Linked DNA regions of Homo sapiens. The protein of the gene in region 1 interacts with the protein of each later gene in a pairwise test. Each region holds a gene or a part of one and is shown on either strand. Other genes may lie near its edges. The genes, in order: PISD and DHX29.

Evidence for each region.
Region 2: the proteins of PISD (region 1) and DHX29 interact in a two-hybrid assay, tested with the Homo sapiens proteins (one large-scale study listed by BioGRID and IntAct).

The regions. Positions count from the first base shown.
Region 1 is NC_000022.11:31,655,697-31,659,515, reverse strand, and holds part of PISD (phosphatidylserine decarboxylase proenzyme, mitochondrial), read left to right. Parts: intron 1-3,819. UniProt on the Homo sapiens protein: Catalyzes the formation of phosphatidylethanolamine (PtdEtn) from phosphatidylserine (PtdSer). Plays a central role in phospholipid metabolism and in the interorganelle trafficking of phosphatidylserine.
Region 2 is NC_000005.10:55,297,459-55,301,277, reverse strand, and holds part of DHX29 (ATP-dependent RNA helicase DHX29), read left to right. Parts: intron 1-2,613; coding exon 2,614-2,687; intron 2,688-3,819. UniProt on the Homo sapiens protein: ATP-binding RNA helicase involved in translation initiation. Part of the 43S pre-initiation complex that is required for efficient initiation on mRNAs of higher eukaryotes with structured 5'-UTRs by promoting efficient NTPase-dependent 48S complex formation.

The DNA.
Region 1 (3,819 bases):
GTGATTCTTAGGTTCAGGCAAGTACGGACAATAGTACCTAGGAAGTAGCTTCTCGTGCATGACTTCCATCAGAAATATTTATGGCATCCCTACCACTGCAAACCACACTGTCAACGGACCATAGAGAAGGGAGAAGAGAGAAGGGAAGGGGAGCAAATGAAGAAATTAAAAACATTTGAAATAGGCCTTGTCTTCAAGGAACTTTACTATATACTTGTAATACATGGTGGAATACGGGATAAAGCCTTCAAGAGGTCTGTCCGTTCTGTTTTAGGAGAACTTTCACAGCTTTAGAAAGCAAGGGAGACATAAGGACTATAGGCAAAATGTTACTACTAGGGGTGATGTTAAAAATGTCTTAGGCCTGGGCGTGGTGTCTCATGCCTGTAATCCCAGCATTTTGGGAGGCTAAGGCGGGTGGATTGCATGAGCTCAGGAGTTCAAGACCAGCCTGGGCAACATGGCAAAAACCCATCTGTACAAAAAACACAAAAATTAGCTGGTCATAGTGGTGCATACATGTAGTCCCAGCCACCTGGGAGGCTGAGGTAGGAGGATTGCCTGAGCCCAGGAGGTTGAGGCTGCAGTGAGCCAAGATCATGCCACTGCACTCCAGCCTGGGCAACAGAGTGAGACCCTGTCTCAAAAAAAAAAAAAAAAGAAAAAGAAAAAATAGTGCAACTGGCCAGGTGTGGTGGCTTATGTCTGTAATCTCAACACTTTGGGAGGCTGAGGCAGGAGAATTGCTTGAGCCCAAGAGTTCGAGACCAACCTGAGCAACATAGTGAGACCTCCTCTCCGCAAAAAATGGCTGGGTGCACATCTGTGGTCCCAGCTACTTGGGAAGCTAAGGTGGGAGGTTCACTTGTGCCCAGGAGGTCGAGGCTGCAGTGAGCTGTGATTTCACCACTGCATTCCAGCCTGGGTGACAGAGTGAGACCCTGTCTCAAAAAACAAACAAACAAACAAACAAACTTATAACCAGGATGCCATGGAGACAGACTAGTGAGAGTGAATGCTGGTCATAGATGATTGATATGACCATCTCAGTGTATGTCAGCTGAATATCAACTCTTAATAATAACAGTCTAACTAGGTGCCAGGCCCTGAGCTAAGGTTTTGCATGATTGTCTTCTAATGAGGTGAGTTTTGTTTTTGCAGGTGGAGAAACTGAGGCTTAAGATTAGTTAAGAAATTTCCTAAGGTCACACAGCTGCTAAGAAGTGGCAGCGCTGAGATTTGAGTTGCACAGGCAGACTGGAGTGCTCAATTGTGGGCTTTAATTGCCTACTTGAAGGATGCGATGTAGAATGCATGTAGAAGAGACATCTGTTTGAACCCATCCATTCATCTTTCTGGGGCATACTGTCACTATTGAGATTGAAGGCCAGTGAGAACACAGATAAACCCCGTGTTCATCGAGGTATACATACAGTAAACAAATAACTGAATACATGCAGAATCCATTCATTTTGTGTAATAAGAAATGCCATGAAGAAAAAGAAAGCAAGATAATTAAGAAGTTAGTGCTCAACAGAAAGACAAACTTTGCATGTTCTCACTTATTTGTGGGAGCTGTAAATTAAAACGGTTGAACTCATGGAGATAGTAGAAGGATGGTTACCAGAAGCTGGAAAGGGTAGTGGGGGGATGGGAAGAAATGGGGATGGTTAATGGGTATCAAAAAAATAAAATGGGCTGGGTGCAGTGGCTCACGCCTGTAATCCCAGCACTTTGGAGGCCCAGGCGGGTGGATCACCTGAGGTCAGGAGTTCAACACCAGCGTGGCCAACAAACCCTGTCACTACTAAAACTACAAAAAAAAATTAGCCGGGTGTGGTGGTGTGCTCCTGTAATCCCAGCTACTCAGGAGGCTGAGGTAGGAGAATTCCTTGAACCTGGGAGTCAGAGGTTGCAGTGAGCTGAGATTGCGCCATTGCACTCCAGCCTGGGCAACAGAGCAAGATGCCATCTCAAAAAAATATATAAAATAAAATGAATAAGACCTAGTGTTTGCTAGCACAACAGGGTGACTATTGTCAAAAATAATTTAAAATTATTACATTTAAAAATAACTAAAAGGCTGGGTGCGGTGGCTCACGCCTGTAATCCCAGCACTTTGGGAGGCTGAGGCGGGTGGATCACGAGGTCAGGAGTTCAAGATCAGTCTGGCCAAGAAGGTGAAACCCCATCTCTACTAAAAATACAAAAAATTAGCCAGGCATGGTGGTGGGTGCCTGTAATCCCAGCTACTCGGGAGGCTGAGGCAGAGAATTGCTTGAACCCAGGAGGCGGAGGTTGCGGTGAGCTGAGATCATGCCACTGCACTCCAGCCTGGGCGACAGAGCAAAACTCCATCTCAAAAAAACAAAACAAAACACTAAAAGAGTATAACTGGATTGTTTGTAACACAAAGCTTAAATGCTTGAGGGGATAGATATCCCATTTACCTAATGTGATTATTCCATATTGCGTGCCTGTATCAAACTAGCTCATGTAACACATAGATATATATGCCTACTACATACCCAGAAAAATTTTTTTTAAAAATTAAGAAGTTAGTGTTCAAGAGGGCCAACTCTTGGGCATACAGTGCTCAGGAAAAACTGCACTGAGGAGGTAACATTTGAGCAGAGAACTAAATGATGTGGGAGTGAGCCACATAGGAGAGGGGTGTGCCCAGCATAGCAAACAGCAAATGGAGGAGTGTGGAAAGGGGCACATGTGGTGTGGACAAGGAGCGGCAAGAGGAGTGAGTGAGGAGGAAGAGAGGGAAAGTAGCTAGAGATCTGAGAGGCTGACAAGATGTGGGATCTTGTCTTTCTGTTTTGTTTATTTATTTATTTATTTATTTATTTATTTATTTTTGAGACGCAGTCTTGCTCTGTCACCCAGGCTGGAGTGCAGTGTGCGATCTCGGCTCCCTGCAACCTCCGTCTCCCAGATTCAAGCAATTCTTCTGCCTCAGCGTCCTGAGTAGCTGGGACTATAGGCACCGACCACCACACCTGGCTAATTTTTGTATTTTTAGTAGAGATGGAGTTTCACCATGTTGGTCAGGCCGGTCTCGAACTCCTGACCTCGTGATCTGCCCACCTTGGCCTTCCAACGTGCTGGGAGTTCTCATAGGCGTCAGCCACCATGCCCGGCCTTTATTTTTTTGTTTTTTTCAGACAGAGTCTCGCTCTGTCATGCCCAGGCTGGAGTGCAGTGGTGTGATCTTGGCTCATTGCAACCTCCACCTCCTGGGTTCAAGCAATTCTCCTGCCTCAGTCTCCCAAGTAGCTGGGATTATAGGCCACCACCATCACACCCGTCTAATTTTTTGTATTTTTAGTAGAGACGGGGTTTCACCATATTGGCTGGCTAGTTTTTTGTATTTTTAGTGGAGACGGGGTTTTACCATATTGGCGAGGCTGGTCTCAAACTCCCGACCTCAGGTGATCCACCTGCCTCAGCCTCTCAAAGTGCTGAGATTACAGGCGTGAGCCACTGAGCCTGGCCAGTGGTAGTTTTCATTGCCTTGCCAGTGGATTGAATGTGGATGATGAGAAAGAAAGGACTTAAAAATGAGTCCTGGGCTGGGTGCAGTGGCTCATGCCTGTAATCCCAACACTTTCGGAGGCCAAGGTGGGTGGATCACTTGAGGTCAGGAGTTCGAGCCCAGCCTGGCCAACATGGCGAAACCCTGTCTCTACTAAAAAAACACAAAAATTAGCTGGGTGTGGTGGCTTGTGCCTGTAATCCCAGCTACTTGGGAGGCTGAGGCAGAAGAACTGCTTGAACCCAGGAGGCGGAGGTTGCAGTGAGTTGAGATCA
Region 2 (3,819 bases), on another chromosome or scaffold:
TGCAGTGAGGTTGTCCAGTTGGCTACATGATGTGTAATGTTACGGCAGATTGAATGCAGAAGCTAGATGTTACGAACTGAATGTTTGTGTCCTCAAAAAATTAGTATGTTGAGACCCTTACCCCCAGTGTGGCTATATTTGGAGATAAGGGCTCTAAGGAAGTACATAAGGTTAAATGAGATCACAGGGATGGGGCCCTGATCCAACAGGATTAGTGTCCTTATAAAATGAGATACCCAAGAGAGCTCAGTTTCTCTGAGTAAGCACAGAGAAAAAAGCCATGTGAACATATAGCAAGATGATGGCCACCTACATGCCAAGAGAAGAGGCCTCAGAATGAAACCTCCCTTGCTGGTACCCTAATCTTGGACTTCCCAACCTCCAGAACTATGAGAAATAAATTTCTGATGGTGAAGCCATCCAGCAGTCTGTGGTATTTTGTTGTGGCAGTCTGAGCAGACTAAGATACCAGATATTAAAGAGATTTGCAAAAACGGATATTATTTTTTGTCTTGAAAAATATAGTCACATTTCATCTTAAGCATCATTTATATTAATGGAACAGGTTTATTTTTATTATTTTGTTGAGGTCCTTTTGTTTTTTTGAGACAGAGTCTCGCTCTGTCTCCCAGGCCAGAGTGCAGTGGTGCAGTCTCGGCTCACTGCAACCTCTGCCTCCTGGGTTAAAGCAGTTCTCCTGCCTCAGCTTCCCAAGTAGCTGGGATTACAGGCATGCATCACCAGGCCCAGCTAATTTTTGTATTTTTACTAGAAATGGGGTTTTGCCATATTGGCCAGGCTGGTCTCAAACTCCTGACCTCATGTGATCTGCCCGCCTCCGCGTCCCAAGTGCTGGGATTACAGGCATGAGCCACCACACCTGGCCTATTATTATTATTATTAGAGACAGGGTCTCACTCTGTTGCCCAGGCTGGAGTGCAGTGTTGCAGTCACAGCTCACTGTAGCTACTACTGCAGCCTTGAACTCCTGGGTTCAAGCAGTTTTCCTGCCTCAGCCTCTTGAGTACCTGGGACTTCAGACATGTGCTACCACAGCTGGATAATTTTTGTAGAGGCAAAGTCTCACTATATTGCCCAGACTGCTCTCAAACTCCTGGGCTCAAGAGATCCTCCTACCTCAGCCTCCCAAAGTGCTGGGATTACAGGCATGAGCCACTGCGCCTGGCCAGATTTATTATTTTTGGTGAATGAATGTTTTAAAATTTCCCTTTTAATTTATAATATACTAAGTATCAATAGACATAACCCACATAAACAAAAACTATTTGGATCCTCAGTAATTTTTAAGAGAGTAAGGGGTCATGAGACCAAAAGTTTGAAAATAATGTGTGTTGTTTCCTGGTTACTCATTGTTAAAGGACTGAGACTAGACAGCGTTTCTGTTCACTGGAACAGACTTGGCAACTGTAGTGGGTTGAGTGAGTAGTGTCCCCCCAAATATTCATGTCCACCTGGAACCTCAGAATGTGACCTTGTTTGGAAATAAGCTCTACAGATCTGTGGATCTTGAGATGAAATTATACTAGATTTAGGGTGATTCCTAAATCCAATAATGAATGTCAAGAGAAAGGAGAGGGACATTTGGACACAGAGAAAGGGAAGAAGGCCGTGTGAATGAGGAGGCAGAGACTGGTGTTATGCTGCCACCAGAAGCTGGAAGGGGGAAGGAACGATTCTTACCTAGAGCCTTCAGAGAGAGCATGGTCCTGCTCACACCATGATTTTGGAGTTCTAGCTTCCAGAATTGTGAGAGAATAAATTTCTGCTGTATTCAGCCATCAAGTTTGTGGTAATTTGTTATGGCAGCCCTAGGAAACTATAGCAACCCTGGACTTGAGTTCAAGGAGAAAAGATGATAGGAACTCCCACCTCCCTTTTCACTTAGCATACCACCTTCAAGAAAGAGTGCTTTCTCTTTAAAATTGTCCATCTACTCTGCCAACAATCATATCTTAGAAGTTTTGCCTCAGCTAAGTGCCAGGAGAAAAGCATCTGACTAAAAGATATGAGGATAAAGATAGATTTAACCTAAAAGATATGTAGGCATTTGCATTTTATGAGAAACTGGTTAACATGGAGTAATGCTAATTGGTAAAATGTTGAAAATTTAGAGAGGATATTGCTAGCTACTAGATTGAGTTATTTGGTGAAGTATTGGGGAAAAAAGCTGAAATCAAATATTTAATATTTAGCATTCTTTTTTTTTTTTTTTTTTTTTTTGAGACGGAGTCTCGCTCTGTCGCCCAGGCCGGACTGCGGACTGCAGTGGCGCAATCTCGGCTCACTGCAAGCTCCGCTTCCCGGGTTCACGCCATTCTCCTGCCTCAGCCTCCCGAGTAGCTGGGACTACAGGCGCCCGCCACCGCGCCCGGCTAATTTTTTGTATTTTTAGTAGAGACGGGGTTTCACCTTGTTAGCCAGGATGGTCTCGATCTCCTGACCTCATGATCCACCCGCCTCGGCCTCCCAAAGTGCTGGGATTACAGGCGTGAGCCACCGCGCCCGGCCTAATATTTAGCATTCTTTAGAGGAAAATTAAAATAATGTAATAGATATTAATCATTAAATTGCCTTGTCTATTTGTATTTACAGGTCCAAAAATTTATAGTTTTAATTCTACAAATGATTCTAGTGGTCCTGCAAATCTGGATAAATCTATTTTGAAAGTAAGTAACAAAGGTTTTGAGTCATTTCAAGAAATGTTTCCCCCTTTTTTCCCCCAAAAAAGATGTATCCTTAAATGTAAGAAAATGATGGGGTGTTTTAAATTTTTGTAAATAGTACTCTAAGAGCTAATCTCTACTAAAAATAAGTAAATCATACACATATGTTGAGAGACAGTAAGAAATGAAGGAAGGCCTGGTTAAGATCTAAACTTCTTAAGCATGGCATATACATTTTTTCAGGTCTGTCTTAGAATACCGTTTCACCCTCCTCTCTGCTACTCTGATCTCTACTTAATATTTTAGTTCATGGGACATCTCATGAATATCTCATTTGTTCTTCTAAATCCGTGATTTTACAACTTCTAGCTTTTACCCATGTACTCTCTGCGTAGAGTGCCCTTATTTCCCCTTTTTATTTGTCACCTCTGTGACCTCTATGAAGTCCTTTATCAACCGCCAAGTTGATTTTCTTGGTGGTTCTACTATTACTTGATATATCTTTTTTGAGAATTGCCATGCTGGGTTATAATTTGTCTCTTTATATATATTTTCTGGGCTAGACTGTGAATTTCTGAATTATATTTTTGTGCTTAGTTTATAGTAGGCATTTAGTTAAAAAGTAACAAAGGGAAGATATTTTTGTAAGTAGATGCTTGTGTACTCTTAGGTCAAAAATAACAAAAGAACAGAAAATAAAATGGCTAGTAGGAAAAAGTAGGAATCAAAGTCTAGAAGCCAAAAGAATTTGTGTAGCTTATTACGACATATTTAGTTTTCAGTTTTACTTGTTATACCCGTTTTTAGTATAGTGTTCATTCTTTTAGGTTGTGTGCTTGCAGTGGTTTACATTAAATCCCTCCAAGAATTCTGATTCAGTATGTTTGGGATAGAACTTAGGAATCTTTGTGACAGCAACCCAAGGGTGGTCCAAGGACAATGTCTCGTGACATTGCCCTCAAGAGGCTTTTTCTTGCCATGTGTTATCTTGTTGCTTTTTTCATATCACATTTTTTCTTAAAGAAATGATAGGAATGTGGTCAAATGGGTGGTAGTCCAAAAAATGATAATTACTGTATCTGATTTTAGCTGAAATTTTGGGCTTGGTTGGCAGGAATATAGAAAACTGTATGAT